Linked DNA regions of Homo sapiens: region 2 is linked to region 1. Evidence: fine-mapped expression QTL. A gene starts in region 1. The other region holds a variant in brackets. All regions are shown on one strand. Distances are from middle to middle.

Evidence for each region. PIP is the estimated chance that this variant, and not a neighbour inherited with it, causes the effect.
Region 2: its variant is fine-mapped to the expression of OXR1 in non-classical monocytes (Schmiedel 2018, PIP 0.95).

The regions. Positions count from the first base shown.
Region 1 is chr8:106,265,059-106,273,868 of GRCh38, reverse strand. OXR1 (oxidation resistance 1) reads right to left here and starts at 3,679. Exons shown (of 17, transcript NM_001198533.2): 1 at 3,502-3,679. RefSeq lists silencers at 3,325-3,684, 3,705-3,954.
Region 2 is chr8:106,713,006-106,721,815 of GRCh38, reverse strand. It overlaps OXR1 (oxidation resistance 1), which reads right to left. Exons shown (of 17, transcript NM_001198533.2): 11 at 7,831-7,993. Among named protein-coding and RNA genes, the nearest start is that of ABRA, 53 kb to the left of the region's middle. The variant A/G (reference allele first, on the strand shown) is at 3,611.

The sequences.
Region 1 (8,810 bases):
TCACATGCACATATGCATATGATTCACCTTTTAGAAATTCTCAATATGTCTTAAGATTTTTTGTTTGTTTGTTTTTTAAAGGCTGAAAAACAGTTCTGCCAAAAGGAAGCCTCTTTAATTTCCTTAAAACAAGTGTTTTTGAATATGGACCATTTTGCAAAGAAAGTCTCTTATTAACTACTCTTGATTTTCAAGATGGACTTCCAATAGGAATATTTGAAAGTATCCTAAAAGGGGTTGCTTTTAATGTTAAGCACATCTTATTGAAAGCCAAGTTTCTCAAATTAAGCATTACTGACATTTGGGCTGGATAATTGCAGAAGGCTGTCCAGTTTATTGTAGAATGTTCACAGCATCCCTGGCCTGGCCCACAAGACACCAGCAGCACCTCTCCCCCAAAGTTGTGACAACCAAAAATGTCTCCAGACATTGTCAGTATCCCCTAGGGGGTAAAACTGCCCCCAGTGGAGAATCACTGCTCTAAGCCTATCAACAAGATCTATCCCTAAAGTGAGAGAAAGTGATTTCTCTTCTTCCACTTTGACTGACATCTCTATTTCTCATTCTGCCTCCTCAAGCCATTTCACCACCTTTACTTTCTTCTTCTTCTTCTTTTTTTTTTTTCTTTGTAATGACTTTATCTTAGGGCAACAAAAATTCCATTGACTATTTTCTAAAGCTTCCCAGGATTTAGGGAACAATCCTCCAGAAAAAAAGTGTCCAGTTAGGCTTCCACTTAAGGACCAGGAACCAGCCCAAGGGTACAATCCTTTGTATTTCAAATGCAGGAGATCGGGAGTAAAAGATTCTCTCATCTCACATTAAATTTAGCATTCTATAATGAAGCCTTTTCCTGCACACACTCAAAAGATCTACCCGGACCTAATCTCTGCTTTTATATGATACCCTAATCAATTTGGCCGACTTTCCCTCTTCCGTGACCCCCAAACAAAACAATACAGGCAAACATATCAGATGATGTTTTATTTGAACAGCATTCTGTGCAGAACAGAATGGCTAAAATGATCATTTATTTTACCTTCACATGATTTATAATAATGACTGAAAAAAATCATAGCCATAAAAGCCAATAATGACAGCAGAAGTCTTTTTATTCAAATCTCCCACCTTACAGATGTCCAGAATAATCAACATATTTCAAAGGGTATATTTCAAAAACGTACTAGCAACTCAGCCAGCCACTGTCACATGGAATAAGAAGACATGCCCTGGCCATTAGAACCATGCTGTCCTCGCTCTTGTGTCCCTCCACGGGACAGACATCACCTTGCAAGACAACTCGTGCCACTGTCCCCAACAGTTTTCCACAGAGTTCTTGTTTCCCTTCATCTGAATCTTCTCTGTGCAATTTGATGTCCTGAACTATTTCTGACGGTTGCACACAAGATCTCAGGGACTGGACCTTTTAGTTATGAGACCAGCCCTCTTAGACAGCAGACAGTAGGTACAGTGCTTGCTCTCCCTTCTTTGCATCCTTCCAGAGTTGCCTTCATCCTCATTTCCTGCATCTGGTAAAGTCTCTCTGAAAATGTGAAACCGACGACAGAACATGGCAAGCTGGATGGAGAAGCCGACAACCCCTCCCCCACTCTCACCCAACGCCGGGCCGGTCCTGTTTCGGATCCTGCACACTGTGGAAGCTTCTTGCTTCCTTGTTTTGGTGGGTGAAATCTTTGCTGTTCAAAAAGGTGTTTTTGCACAGAAATTTTAGGACGTGTTTATTCTAGTAACGTAGTGTTTTCTTTTTTCGCTATATTTACATGTGGAGAACTCCAGGGAGGCCCCCACCAGAGATCCCTTAAATGCTGGTCTCTGTCCCTGCTTCTCGGCCCCGCTGGCCTTTTGGAGCCATCGTGCTTCCCAGTCCGCAGGCAACAATCACAGCATCACCTGCAAGGGGCAGCAAAGTGAACCGCGGACCCCTGGAGTGACGCCTTGGAGATGGACCCTTTGGATTTGGGAACCCCTCTGACGGCCGGGACTCCCAGGATTCCCTTCCATAGAGGGAGTCCACGGTGGTCGCAGCCGGCGGCTGAGTCCTCCTTAGAGTGCCGAATCAGAGAAGACCCGCATCAGGTTTGGGATGTAAGTGGAGAGGGAGAGGTTAGAAAGAGGCATCATTGGATAAGCAAAGAATGCTACCCTGGGAAAAGGAGGCAGAAAAGACGTAGGGAAGTATGTTCCCCTTAATCCCTTCCCCGTGCCGCCCGTAGATCCCTGGATCTTCTTGTCACGGAGACAGGCTGCAGCCACACACGCGACCCCGGGCCGGAAACATGCACACGCGCGCGCACACACGCACACACACGCCCCGCTGCGAGTTGCACGCTGCAGACTTCTGCCTGACTTCCCGGCCAAAAACACCGCACCTCTGGGGCCAGACCACGAATTCCTGTGGCCTAGAACTGACACCACTCCCCCTACCCCCGCAATACACACATTCAGACCCTACACTGCACCCTGAGCGTGCCGGGAACCACTGAACGGAAGCCCGAGCAGCTCCCCCCGTAAACGACTACCTTCCCCACTGCCTAATGTCTATTTAAATCTCCTAAAGCTCGCCTACAGCGAGCCGAGGTGCGTCCAAGCCGGGTAGTAGACGGAGGAGGAGCCAGGGGTGAAAGTGAACCTCAGATAACAGTACTAAATCACTATTCAAGGGGCGGCACGGGGAAGCCTCCAACCCTCTCCTGAACCTTTCAGGCCCTACCAGCAGCCCAGTTCCTCCGCCCGATACTGCACAGCTCCCCCCCTCTTCACCCAAATCCCTCAGCGATTTTCCAGTCGGCCCTCCAGGCCACTTTCTACATCCATCCTTTCCCCAGCCAGTTCCCAACATGTGGCCTCGGGTACTCTAGCGGGAGACAGATTCCAGGCTGACTCCATCATGATGTGCCCCCTAGCCTTTTACTGATTCCCCAAATTATCCGAATCCACTCGCCCCTCCGGAGCCCACTGTCCCTTCCACCGGCGTCCTTTGCTCTCGTCCAAATCCGCTTTCCACGCGCCCCACTTTCCACCCATCCTCCTGCCGTTCTGTTCAAGACACGCTTGCCCTCCACTCTGCGCCCCCAACACTGCTCTCACGCTGCTCCCACTCTATCCCCCGGCGACACCCCCACTTTCCTTCTGCGGCTGTCCCTGGCCGGGCTCCCGCGCCCCAAACCCAGCCTCCCCGCCCGGTCTCCTCCCTCGCCGCCCGGTCTCCTCCCTCGCCGCGCGGTCTTTCCTTCTTCCCAAGTCCGCCCTCTGGGCCCCCGCTGGAGCTAGTTCTGCCCTCCTGCTCTGCCCGTCGTCCCCGCTCGAGCATCCCAATGGCCACCCGCTTTCAAATTGGCTAAGTGGCTCGGAGAGGCGCCAGGCACAGGGGGCAGAGGCCAGCCGGCTCTCCCGGGCGCCAGCCGCGCCTCTCGCTATCCCTCCTGGACTCCCCCGGGCGCCAAGCCCTCGCCCTAACGCCCAGCAGCCTCACAAACTTACTTGCGGGTCGCCAGGAGGGGGCTGCGGTGAGCGGCGGCGGGCCCCGCGGCGGCGAGTGCGCCCCTCTCGGCGGGGCTGGGCGGCGCGGCGCCGGCGCTGAGCTCCTGTGGCCGCGAGGTGAATGGGCTCAGCCTGACGCAGCCCAGCTCTAGCCCCGCTGCTGCCGGCGCCGCTGAGCGCTTGCAGACATGCTCAGTTTCCGGACCTGCCCGCGTGGAAGCTACCAAGAGCCGGCAGCGGCGGGGGAGACTGAGAGGAGCCGTGGGGCGCCGCGAGCCGGAGGCTACCACGCCGGGGGCGGGGGGAGGCACGCACCGCTAAAAATAGCTCCTGCGGAAGCCACGCTGGCTTAGCGCGCACCCCTCCCCGCGCGCGGCCCCTCTGGCTGGGGTTCGGGTTTCTGCTCTGGCTACCGCGGTGGGGACCCCAGCTCGCCGAGTCCTGCCAGGCGTCTGCCTGCACTAGGATCCCCATCCCGGTGGAGACGGCGCCTCCAGTTCAGGCGCCCACTCGAATAGCCTGGACTAAGCCAGAGCTGCCCCGATTTCGGGGTCCCGCCTGTCGGGCAGCTCTAATACTAGGCTCTCCCTAGAGAAGCAGAGGAAAGTTTTGTTAAAGCGATAAAAAAGCTTCTGCAAGGAAAGCTGCAAGGAAATTTGTTCAGATTTACGGAGGAAAAAAATGTTCTTCAGATGCTTTGGTTGCTGGGAAAAACAAGGAGGAAAGGAAGGCGAAGTCTGACAGCCTAGAAAGGGACCCAAGGCAGCTTGGAGCGGGCTGAAGGGGGTTCTGCAAAGAGCTTCTAAAATTCAGAATTCTTTGCAAGGCGTTTGTGACTCCTCATTCCGCAGTGTTTTGCATAATTCGTTGACACCCCACCCTGACCTTGGAGATTTTCTTGTTCCTGTCACCTGAACTGTAATTTACTTTCTCCGCATGCTGCCTTCACTCCTTCCCCCTCCAACCCGGTTTTAAATTGCAAAACGAAAAGGGCGCAAACTCTGGATGGGTAGATTCCCAGACCTGAACTGGAACCTGGCTGTTCTGTAACCCTGAGGAAAGGAGCTGGTCCTGTTGCCGAGTTCGGGATGTATCCCAGATCTCCTGTGCATCCAGCAAACACTTCAAGCGTAGGAGCCTTTCAGCCACCTCACCTGCAAATTAGCTATTTCCCGCTATTAGTGTTCACTCTATTCTACCTTAATTTCTGATCATTTATTATTATTTTTTAATTCTGTTCTTTAAAGTAAGAGGTACAGATATTTCCTGGGTCAAATTTCCGTCTTGTTTCACTCACCTCTCACAGCCACCCAATGAGAGAATCATTATTATTCCCATTTGACAGACAGGGATGTTGAAATTTAGCGACAGGAGCTCATCGCTTGTCTGGAATAATAGAGTGTTGAACCTAGGGTCGGCCAGACTAGAAACTTTCATGGTTTCCGCATAACCTATTTCCCCGAGTCAATAGCTTTACCTGAGATAAGGGATCAAGAAAATTAGATACTATTCTGAGTGGCGTGGCGTGTCAACAGTAAGCCGATTGATAAGCCGATTGCGGGTTTTGTTCTCCATTATTTTTACCTAATTTCTTTACGAGCATTCGCAGCTTAAATTTTCTGTTATGTTGAAACTGATAGCGTTTAATTTTTATTCTATCAGAAAGATTTTACTGAGAATCTTCTACAAGCAATGTATAGACTAGGTATGTATTTTATAATTATCTCAGTTCAGACTCTGTGATAAAGCTACTTTGTTTTCCCAGTATTATAAATTAGTTAGACTTTGCTAACCCTACTAAGTAATGTACATGTGATTTTTTCATAGAACTGTAGTGGAATCTGTCTATTTGGGTCAAGATGTCCTCCCTCCTAAGATATTTGCGCCCTTCCATCCCCACTTGCAATTTAGTGCCATGTGCACCCCAAAATAAGTAATCAATTAAGGTTTGATCTTTTACTTTTTTACTGAAGCTGCAAATATTATCTGCAGGACCAGGGCCACTTTATAATGACAACATCATGTTTCTAATTTTCCATAGGTGATTCATTGGGAGATCAAAATGTGAATTTCCTTAGACTATCAACACAAATCATTCCTTTCTATCAGTGGTGAAGGAAGGTGAAAAATAAACTTTACTTTCATCCTGGTTGCTTTCATTCTTCCTCTTTCAGTAATTATTCTTAAGGTGGTATGGCACTCTGAACATCTTCATGCTACAGCATGCACACTACCCATAATCATGAAACAGGGAAAATCTTGATTTCAAAGTCTCTTTGGTGTCCTATGGAAAAGTGTAGCTCAAAAACGTACTGCATTGAGGACTCGAAGTAACAAGTGACAGGGATGCAATTCTAACTTAGGCAGAGAAAATGCATTGACCCGTGTAACTCAGAAGTACTAGAAATAGCAGGGCTTGTCCTGGGCTTAACAACATTAGGAAGAATATGATTTTCTCTTTCTCTAACTTGCTTTCGGCATTGCTTCCTGTGTTGGTTTCATTCCCCTCACATTATGTCCATAGTGCCAGCCCTACACAGTTGACAAATTTTGTAACCTTACAAAGAAATCAAGTCTCTTGTTCTGTTGAGCAGATCAATCTTTGAAGGTGTACTCTTATTGGCTGTCCTGGCTCACACAATCAACCACCTGCATCCTCTTGGGGATGAAAGATTCTCAAAAGGGAAAAAAGTATTTGGTTAGCAAAAGAAGGAATAGGGGATGTTTGCAAGATGGAAATAATGGATAACCAGTAAACTCATAGACTGGCCTGTTTCCCCATGGACAAAAAAAGGACAGCAAGTGTGTTGGGAGGTCCGTTGGTTTCAGTTATTCAGAAATGAGCAAGATAATAATAATGCTTTGAAGTGAACTTTTCCCATCTCTTTTTAGGCTCAGTTGCTTTGATTTGCCTGCCTAAGGGTAACAGAGAGTCCCCTCTTTGTTGCCTTTTCATCTTTATTTCAGGGCCCTGGTTATTTCCAAGGTGGTGCCACTCATTAAAGACAGCTAATGAGCCACCCAGCCAACTGACGCTTTCAGTCCCCAATCTGTCTCTGCAGGAAAAGGATGTTTTCCATATTATTAAAGCCCATTTTTTTTGTTTTGATCTAATGTACTTGATCATTATGTAAACCATTTGATAATAAAAAGTGGGGGTTTTCCCATTGTGCCTCAAAACATGAACAGATGGGGGAAATGCTGCTGTCCTTATAGTTTTGTATTATTTCTTATGCTAGAATTATTTGAATAATTGGCTGTCTTTTTTCCCTTTACTTATCTTATGCAATTTGTTTGTTACCTCCTTTAATATTTGTTATTCTAGGAATAAATCAATGCAATCCATGAGTCATCTCATTTAAACTGCATTCTATAGTTACGTTAAACTTATCAAATCCAGGATCTTTTCCTTGAACTTCTTCTCATGACTTTGTACATTGTCTTCTAGGAACTCCTCCCTTAGCTCTGTCACACCACAGCAAACATATTTTTTTTTTTTTCTCTGAAACGGAGTCTCACTCTGTTGCCCAGGCTGAAGTGCAGTGGCACTATCTCAGCTCACTGCAACCTCTGCCTCCAGGATTCCAATAATTCTCCTGTCTCAGCCTCCCACATACCACATCTTAACCTACACCTCAGATTATTCTTCTTTTCTTCTCCTAGTTCTCATCTCTGTAGTTCTTTGTCCCTCTCTACACCACACTGCCTTTTTGTTTTAGTTATCTACATACTTGCTTCTCCTCCCCCACTAAACGGCAAGTTTCTGGAGGATTGGGGCAATGGCAAATTTATATTTGTGTGTATTTTATCTTCGTCAGTGCTCAAATAGGTGCTTGCTGATGCATTGAGGGATTATAGGACAGGAAGTGAATATTTAAGTCTGAAACGGGGAATGCATGAGGTGGGCACTAAGTCATCTGCTTTCAGGGAGTCAAGGAAACATGGAGAGAGCTGATGCTGGAGGTAGGCTGACATGCAATATACACTACTTCTTTCACCATTTTGTGTAGGGATACCTCTGTATAGTCCGTTCTTTTCTCCTTTACTTTGTCTTACTTTGAATTCCTTCACTGAGATCTATGCTACACTGCCAAGCATCTGGTATACTTCCAGGTATTGGCACTGACCACTGAGCATATTCTCCTTCCATTGCACAGAGGCAAACCATTTTAGATACTTGGACACTAGCCTGTCTTTCTGTTGCACTTCTTTCATACCAAATTTGCTTTTAGAAAATCAGAACCAAGGTAGAAATGTGAAACAATTTGTAAATGAGTTTTTTAAGGGAAAAGGAAATACCAAGACAGTTTCATTAAAGGGCTATTAAAAGTTTGTCTTCTTGATAGCTATTTTCCCGTTGTGAAAAAAATTAAATTTGGAGAACTAAATAGTAGTAGTTCAAAGTCACTTATGCCCCAATTATTTTTTCATTTCATGACTATAGATAAATGTCACAACAGATTCATTAATGATATATACTAAAGATATAAATGCACATTTCTACCCTCTCTCTGCACTTTCAGGCTGAAACAATTCTAGATAATAGTCATGGGACATTAAGGATCACACAGTATTTGTGAATCAAAGATGCTTCTTGACTAAAAGACTTAGCTCTGATGGCCCTTTCCTCAGGAAAGAAGAATGTGGATAATTATGTACTTCAAATATCAGGATGCTCTTTTCTTGCCTCTGAATCTAACACAAACGTGGCTTAGTTCTTGCAGAAGCAGCAAGATCCTGATAAAGCTACAACTCGTTTCACTTCTCTTTGAGTCCAATGCTACAATAACAAGTATGTTTAATGTGTGATCTCAGATTCTCAAATATAACTAAGAAATCTATGACCATTAGTTTATTTCCACAATGTTTTTATTATAACGGATTCAAAATACTACTGTGCATCAACTAATATTAATAATAATATTCAACATTTATTGGTACTTCTATGTGTCTCTTTCTGTGGTAGGCACTCCTTTGCATACTACTTATTTAATTCTCATAGCAATCCAATGAGGTATATAGTATTTTAGCCTATTTTTGGTTGGACATATAGAAATTCAACCTAGACTGGTGAAGGTGAAAAGGGAAATTTTCTGGCACAATAGTAGAGTGAAATATAAGACAGGGAGCTTCTCTGAGCCTCAGGAGGTGGAAATGCCATCACAATTCTGTCCATATCTCATCAGCAGGTTTATTTTCCCACCTTGCAGACAGGCTTTTTCCACAGCCTGTATAGTCCTTGGATCCCTTCATTAAATAAGGACAGGATCTGTTCAATTGGCTTTGGTTTAGAAGTTTCCAAAGAACTC
Region 2 (8,810 bases), 450 kb before region 1:
TATATAACTAAAAGGGACAGCACTAAATACTAAAGTCAAAATGGAAAGACTATAAATTATTTTAAAAACTAAGCTGAAAGGCAGATTCTAACATATTTTGAATAATAGTATAGAGGTTTATATAGTAAGTAGTTAACATATTTACATTTATACTTAAATAATCTAAACTTCAATTATTGAGAAAATGTGACTAATGTCATGTACCTAAAAAGATACAGGTTGTTTCAAAACCCCAAAACTGTACAGAATGTCTTTTTATCAGTATTTTGGCAAAGGTGAGAAGCAAGAGGGAAGCCAGAGCAATTTTATTCAAATACGAATCATTTTAAGAATGAAAAATACTGTTACACACCCTATCAACACATAATCTTAGTAAATTCGTTCTTAAAATTTAATCAAGTAAATGTGTGGGAGACTAAATAAATCAAGTAAAGTTGATTTAATAAAACCAGTTTCTTAGCTGTTTTTATTTATCATCCTAGGAGAACTGGATACTTTAATTAGGTTTGTAGTATGAAAGATACTGAAGTACATGTGGTATAAAATTAGAGATGAAAAATTTTGGAAAGCTTTCTCTGCCAGCTTTTATCCCAAAAGGACTGGAAAAGTCAATCCAAAGGAAAGGAACCAAAAAGCAATGTTAGCATAAAAAGCTCCACCTTTGAGGCCTGTGTGGTCAAGCAGCAAGACTGGCATACTGAACATGTGACACAATGAATCCTTGACTTTCAGAAAATTCTAGTATACAGCCTCTTGAAGTTGGTACTTGGGGTGGATGCTGATATTGTCCAGCATGTAATGTCTCATGATAAATGATGGCAGGATAAAAGCGATTCAACTTACAGTATTACCATTTTGACTTCATGATAAGAAATTCCAAATTCATCTTTATATTACAACAAATAAATTATAAAGCTGAATGAAAAGTTTTACATGAATCTGAGCTTATTGTGGTGGTCACTCCTTTAAGCTATACTACTGGATCCTCAGGCACTTGCCAAATATATTAAATTTTAAAGGGTATTTGATGGACAAAGTTGAAGAAGACAAAGTTCAAAGATCATTGACTTACAGCCTGGTATGTTTTTTGATCTTCCTCTCCTTGTAGTATCTCTGAGTACACAACATGATGGAAGTCCTGTGGTATGTAAGGGAGCTATGACAACATCAATTGTATCTGCATGGCTGTTACTGAGGAGAAAATATGTTTTCTTAAAAATCAAGGCACAAAATGATTAAACAAACCTTTTTCCATAGTGAACCAAATTTATGTTTTTGATGCAGCAGCCCAGATGAAAGGAATATGAAAAGTATTTCATATAACTTGCATGACAGGAACTCAAAAGCTGATCTATATTATAATCAATATAGTCTAAAGAGTCTTCCACAGTCTTAATATTGTATATGTTTAACACAACACCTGAAGTTGTGGCATGGTGGTATACTAGTTTTCGCACCTTGACTGCACAATGTAACTACCTAGGTAGCTTTAAACAACACTGATAACTAGGTCCTAGCCCCAATTATTCTGATTTAATTGGTCTGATTTGTGACCTTGGCAATGATATGTTTGAAAGCTCCCCATCATGATGCAAAGGTTCCGCCAAAGTTGAGTACTTGGTATGGTGGAAAAGGTATAGGCTCTGAATTAGAGATTAACCACTAAGAGAATTTTAGCCAAATAAAAAACCAGCTTAAAGAAATTATCTGGGCCAGACACGGTGGCTCACGCCTGTAATCCCAGCACTTTGGGAGGCCAAGGCAGGCGGATCATGAGGGCAGGAGATTGAGACCATCCTAGCTAACACGATGAAACTCCGTCTCTACTAAAAATACAAAAAAATTAGCCGGGCGTGGTGGCGGGCGCCTGTAGTCCCAGCTGCTCGGGAAGCTGAGGCAGGAGAATGGCGTGAATCCAGGAGGCGGAGCTTGCAGTGAGCCAAGATGACGCCACTGCACTCCAGCCTGAGCGACAGACGGAGACTCCATCTCAAAAAAAATAAAATAAATAAAAAAATACAAAGAAATTATCTGTAAAATAAAGATGATAATCTATACTTAAGTGTATTGCTCTAGATCTATCAATCATTCAAGTGGTAGAATAACATGTTAACAGACACTATGGGGATGCAAACAGCATATTCCAGACTGTGTGACATTCTACAGAAAAAAAATCTGATTTCTTAAAAACTGAAATAAAAAAGCAAAGCAAAGCAATGGAGGAGGAACCTACATTTAGAGAGACTTAAGAGATATTTTAACTAACTGCAGCATTTGAGAACTTAGTTGGATCATGACTCAAAAAACAAATTGTAAAAATACATACTGTACATATTACATGTATTCTAAATATTTTTATGACATTTGAATAACTATGAACAATTGGAGAAAAGGAGGGACACAGAAGAAATAAGCTGATGAAGCTGAATGGCACATGTGAATTTGTTTTACTATTAATCTTTTATTTTTGTATATTTATTGAACAAAAGTGCGATCATCACGAAATAGCAGATGTCAATAGGCATTCTGCCTCATCTTCACCTCAGGACTTGCCTGACAATTTGTTAAAATGCCATTAGAGCACTTCCCTTTTCAGTGAAAAGGCATAAAAAATCTGTATCAAAAAACAGAAAGTAATATTTATCACAGAACTGCAAAGCCCCACATCAAACAGTATCCTCACAACACTGGATATACTTATTGACTTCCTGTGTTGAATACCGGCAGAAATCAGGGGAAAGACTGTAATAAGTAGTTCCTTCTCAGTTATCAAATAAGGTTATCAGATCCCCAAAAGCAAGACTCATAATGCATATTTCTTTTATTTGGGTATCACACCAAAAACATAAGTTTGGTTCACTATGAAGAAAGGTTTCCTTAATCATTTTGTGCCTTGATTGTTTAAAAACATGCTTTCTTATCAATAGCAGCCATGTTGACGCAATTAATTCAGGCATAGCTCCTTTTTTTTTTTTTTGAGGTGGAGTCTCGCTCTGTCGCCCAGGCTGCAGTGCAGTGGCATGATCTTGGCTCACTGCACGCTCCACCTCCCAGGTTCACGCCATTCTCCTGCCTCAGCCTCCCGAGTAGCTACAACAAGAAGCGCCCGCCACCACGCCCGGCTAATTTTTTGTATTTTTAGTAGAGACGGGGTTTCACCATGTTAGCCAGGATGGTCTCGATCTCCTGACCTCGTGATCCACCTGTCTCGGCCTCCCAAAGTGCTGGGATTACAGGCGTGAGCCACCACGCCCGACCCACACCAAAGTACTCTTTATCATGTGGCATACAAAGTAACACTACAAAAAGAGGAAATTCAGTCCTTTACACATCGTGAGCAGTAAGAATAGTATTTCTCAGATCCTTTATCCAAATACTTAGGAACTGATTTATCATTAGGAACTTTTACTCCTGACCACCTTAAAATTTGGCTAAATTTTCTTTTTCTTAGTAAATATATGTTTCTGTCTGTCTTCAATAGGACTGGTCTTCAATGTTCATATTTGGAAATTAAAATTTTTAAAAATATTACGGAATTTTTCCTGCTATCCCAAGTGTACATTTTAGTAATTTGGGGTGCCATAGTTTATGAACTCTTTTAACATATTTT[A/G]GGGTACTGATATGAATAAGATCTGAATAGAGTTCATAAAGTTAAACAGTTGAAGTACTGGAAAAAATAATTCTGAAACAAGATTAAAAGGGAAGACAAACATTTTCACACTATCGCAGTAAATAGAAAATGTTTCTTGTTGTTATTGACTTGCATTGGAAGACAGAATAAAGATAAATGAATCCAATTTACAAAGATATGTTTCCTTAAGCTTATTGTAACAAATAACTTTCTAACAGAGCTGTCCTAAAATGTAAAGTATTGCCCTTTGAGGTAACAAATTCCCTTTCACTGAATATGTTTAAACAGAACAAAAAAAAATGTAAATGACAGACTGTGGACTATTAGTTAAAATGTCCAGAATCTATGGCTTTATGAAAATATTTACTACAACTGATGTAAGAACTTATTTCAGGAAATAGAGCAATCTTGAAAGATTAGAAGCTTTATACCTTAATTTTAATCTACGCCCAAGTTTATCCATTAATAAATATTGAGAATGAACTATATGCCTATACAATTCTTAGTTCTGAAGATATAATAGTGTATGAAATTGACAAATCCCTGCCTTATGACACTTACATAGGGAAAGGGAGAAAAAAGCAAACAATAAGTTTACCAAATTTATCATATACAAACTTCCCCAGTCAATGTATACATTTCTGGCTAGCAATATATTTCTGCTTGAGTAACAGTCAGGGATAATAAAGATCTTTTTTAAGTATCACTAAAGCAGAATAACAGTGAGTAGAGGTGTTAGTTTAAATCTAACTGATGCCCAAGTTGGTAGCCATAACAAGTTCATCCTAAATTCTAGGACACCTATTCTCCATTCCTTTGTAGAACAAAAAAATAAAAAACATCACGGCACATTCTGAAGTACTACTGTTTTATATAAGGGCTTTAGCCAAATTCTTCCTGTTTTAAAATAAATCATGTTAACATTTAAAATTACTCTTTCACTTAAATGAGTACTCATTAGTTTAACAAACATTTTTATTTTATTTATTTATTTTTTTTGAGATGGAGTCTCACTCTGTTGCCCAGGCTGGAGTGCAGTGGTGTGATCTTGGCTCACTGCAATCTCCGCCTCCCAGGTTCAAGTGATTCTCCTGCCTCAGCCTCCCGAGCAACTGGGACTACAGGCGTGTGCTACCACGTCCAGCTAATTTTTGTATTTTTAGTAGAGACAGGGTTTTACCATATTGGCCAGGCTGGTCTCAAACTCCTGACCTCGTGATCCACCCTAGTTTAACATTTTTTATTTGTTACCCTCGGCCTCCCTAGTTTAACAAACATTTTTTTAGGCACTTAGTATCCATGAGGCATAGACCTGCACTGCACAAGAGCAATATAATGTAAGATACATTACAATTGTAAATTTTCTAGACACCACATTAAAAAAGTGAAATTAATTGTATTAATATAGTTTATTTAACCTAATGTATTCAAAATATTATCACTTCAATATTAATCAGTATAAACAAACAAGATGTTTACATTCTTTTTTCTTTCCATTCTAAGTCATTAAAATCCAGTGTGTATTTTTTTTTTTTTTTTTTTTTTTTTTTTTTTGAGACGGAGTCTCGCTCTGTCGCCCAGGCCGGACTGCGGACTGCAGTGGCGCAATCTCGGCTCACTGCAAGCTCCGCTTCCCGGGTTCACGCCATTCTCCTGCCTCAGCCTCCCGAGTAGCTGGGACTACAGGCACCCACCACCGCGCCCGGCTAATTTTTTGTATTTTTAGTAGAGACGGGGTTTCACCTTGTTAGCCAGGATGGTCTCGATCTCCTGACCTCATGATCCACCCGCCTCGGCCTCCCAAAGTGCTGGGATTACAGGCGTGAGCCACCGCGCCCGGCCTCCAGTGTGTATTTTATACTACAGCTCATTTCAATTGAGATTGGCCACATTTTAAATGCTCAATGGTTACATGTGGCTAGTGGCTATAGGAAGTAGAATATTTTACACTACAGCACATCTCAATTCAGGCACTAAATTTTCATAGGAAATACTTGACCTTAATTAGATTTAGACTGATTTAGATCATATTTAGATTTCATGAAATTTACAGTTGAAAAAGTAGATCATATATCTAAGTTATTCCTAATATATTTAAAAATTGTCCAATAATGGAACCAAGTATCGGTTTTTAATTAATAATTAAAACTAAAAATGCAGTCCCTTAGTGGCATTACATGAATTTCAAGTACTCAATAGCCACATATGGCTAGTGCTGCTATACTGGATACTGCGGTAATATTTTCAGACAATGTAGCAAGGAGTTTCCAAAATTATTTTTTTCTCTTCCATTTTCTTTTGAACTGCACCAATTCCGGTCAAAGGACTGGTGAGGAGATTTATTTTTCCTTTAGAAATTATACCCTGCAGAGTCTTGCACAGAAACTGAGACAGTTCCTTTGAATCAAAATAGTCAATAGTCTCTTATTTCCAAAGTTAAGTACTCCAACCCCAATGGAGAGAAAGCTCTCAATTCCCGTTCATGACTGACAATTCTGCCATCCACCGTGCCACCCAAGCTGGAGATAACTTTATGGTTACCAGGTTGTCACTGAATCCTGTGTAATTAGCTAGCTAATACCTTTTCTTCTAGCTTTATTTCATCACCTTCCACTCTACCTTCAACTGTTGCTGCCTTAGTTAGGTACGTATCTTTGATCACCTGGGCTATTTTAAGTACCTTCTAAAGCTAATCTTAAAAACACAGCTCAGGGACATAGATGTATATAATATATATATATATAAGATACATATATATATTATATACGTATTATATATATTATATATATTTTACATATGTAATCACCCAAGTAACCACCACTGAGAGTAACATATAGAACATCCCCAGAACGCAATAAAGTTCCCTCCTGTCCCTGAGCCACCCTGTCACAGCCCAGTATCAAGTAGTGTGATGGATTTCTGACTAGTTTTGCCCTTTTGAACTTCGTGTAAATGAAATTACATAGTATATGTTCATTTGTGTCAGGCTTCTTTTACTCAACATATTATTTGTAAAATTCATCCATGTCATTGCCTGTACCAGTAGATCTTTTTTATTGTTATTTGGAATTCTGTAAGTATTCAAAAATGTATTCATCCATTCTCCTGCTAATGAGACTTTCCAATTTGGGGCCATTATGAATAAAGCTGGTATGAAGATTGATAATGTTGGTTTAAGTATTAAAATAACCCAAAATACATGGTCGATATGTTCTTCTTTCCCTCCCTTATATTGGAGTCACAGTAGAAACTGATGCTGTATATACTACACAGAATGACATTAGACACATTCCAAATCAGTTTGCATTTTAAACAAAAGACAAGCCATGTATACCTTCAATTACTATACATGTTAAGTGCATGCAAGATACATTCATATCACATTAACAGCCACAAACATTAACACCCAATGAATAAAAAAATTTGATTACATTTATTATAACATTTTAGCATCTGCTCTACATTTTCTAATGCATCAAGAAGAGACTAATCTAGGCAACACCAACAGATATTGCCACCCTACCAACCTTATAAGACAAAGCATGTAAAAGGTAATATGTAATCTTAAGATATATCTAAGAGGAGTTACAAAAAGTTTGTTAGTATAACTTTGACCATTTAAACAAGTTCAGTAAATCTGAGCATATAAAATTTCTACTACTTTATAAAATTAGCACCTGCTTATTTCCTTAAAATTATTATTGAAAAATTTAAGTCAAGATAATGCTTAGGTCTGAAACATAGAAAGGAGTAGTAATTTGTATAGATGCTATGCAAATACTATGCACAGATGTGTTAAATGACTGCCGTACCTCCTCCATGGAGGAGATGAAATTAAAACAAATCAGATGTGAAATCGATGTTTTATGAAAATTAATATAACAGCAAAATTAAAATTATTTCCTTCTTTGCCATAATGTTAATCTTTCCTAAACTAAATATTCTATAAGACACTCAATAAAAGTCATTTTATTGCTAGTGGGTTTTCTAGTATTTTAAAGCAAAAGCAGAATGACAAATATAGTATTAAAGTCACTATTCAGATTCATTCAATAACCACAAATAAACACGGATAGTGAACCTGACCTTTAAAAAAATTCCTCTTTTGTGGAAACATCACTTATACTTTGTACTACCATAAAGCTATAAATTCATACAAACTAAAAAGATGACTAAAATCTTCATATTTTTCTCCTTACCTCCCATTCTCTGGCTGCTGCTTGATTACTAGAATCCTCAATTGTTTCAGACTCCTCAATCTTTTTTACTACTATAAATCCAGGTTCTCTGGTATATTCGCCAGTATCTTCTGCATATATTTCTGGACTCCACTGAATGAAGAAGGCATACAAGTGATCTGTCCTGTTAGGAGAAGTGACTATTAATATACCTAGTATTCTGTGCTGCCAGAATTAAAAAATTATATTTGTAAAATATCTTGATAAATCTTGAAGACTTAAAATATACACAAAATATATTGTTTTATATTAATATAAAAGGTCTACTATCAGGAAGGCATTAACTTAAACATTTTATTTGGCTATATTCTGTCAGGTTGTTCTTTAGAAAACCAAATTAAGATTTTCCTTGGCATGTGTTTGACTAGTTCAGATGTTGTATATTATAAAGCTTTTCTTCTTTAAAGACACTAGTGATGGAAAAGGAAATTAGATACACAACTTTGACCTCATTCCTACAATAATCTAATGATCTAAAATACAAGTAAACAATTTATTAATGGCCTATTTTGAGACATTATATACAATTTTCCAAGTTAATAGAAATGTAATGTCCTTAAATTTTAAATGATACTAGGAACATACAGTGTTGAGAGACAGATGATCTAATCTTAGAAATCTCAGGTTCCCCTTTTCAATGTTTTGTTTACTACACTAAAGCCAGTTGTTACATTCCCTGATAAATGTATTTGAGAGTCACACACACATTTCAAATATCTACGTTTTATTGGTTTTAATTAACATGTTTTTGAAAATTGATTATATAACTTTCAGCTAACATATACCAGTTAATAACCATGGTTCTAGAAATTATATTTTCAATATAATGATTTTTAAAATTGCCATTCTTTACGTGGCAGCTAACATATTTAAAAGGTGCTACATTTTATCTTTCAATGTAACATCTTACCTTTTTATCAATTTCTCACTATCTATGCAGC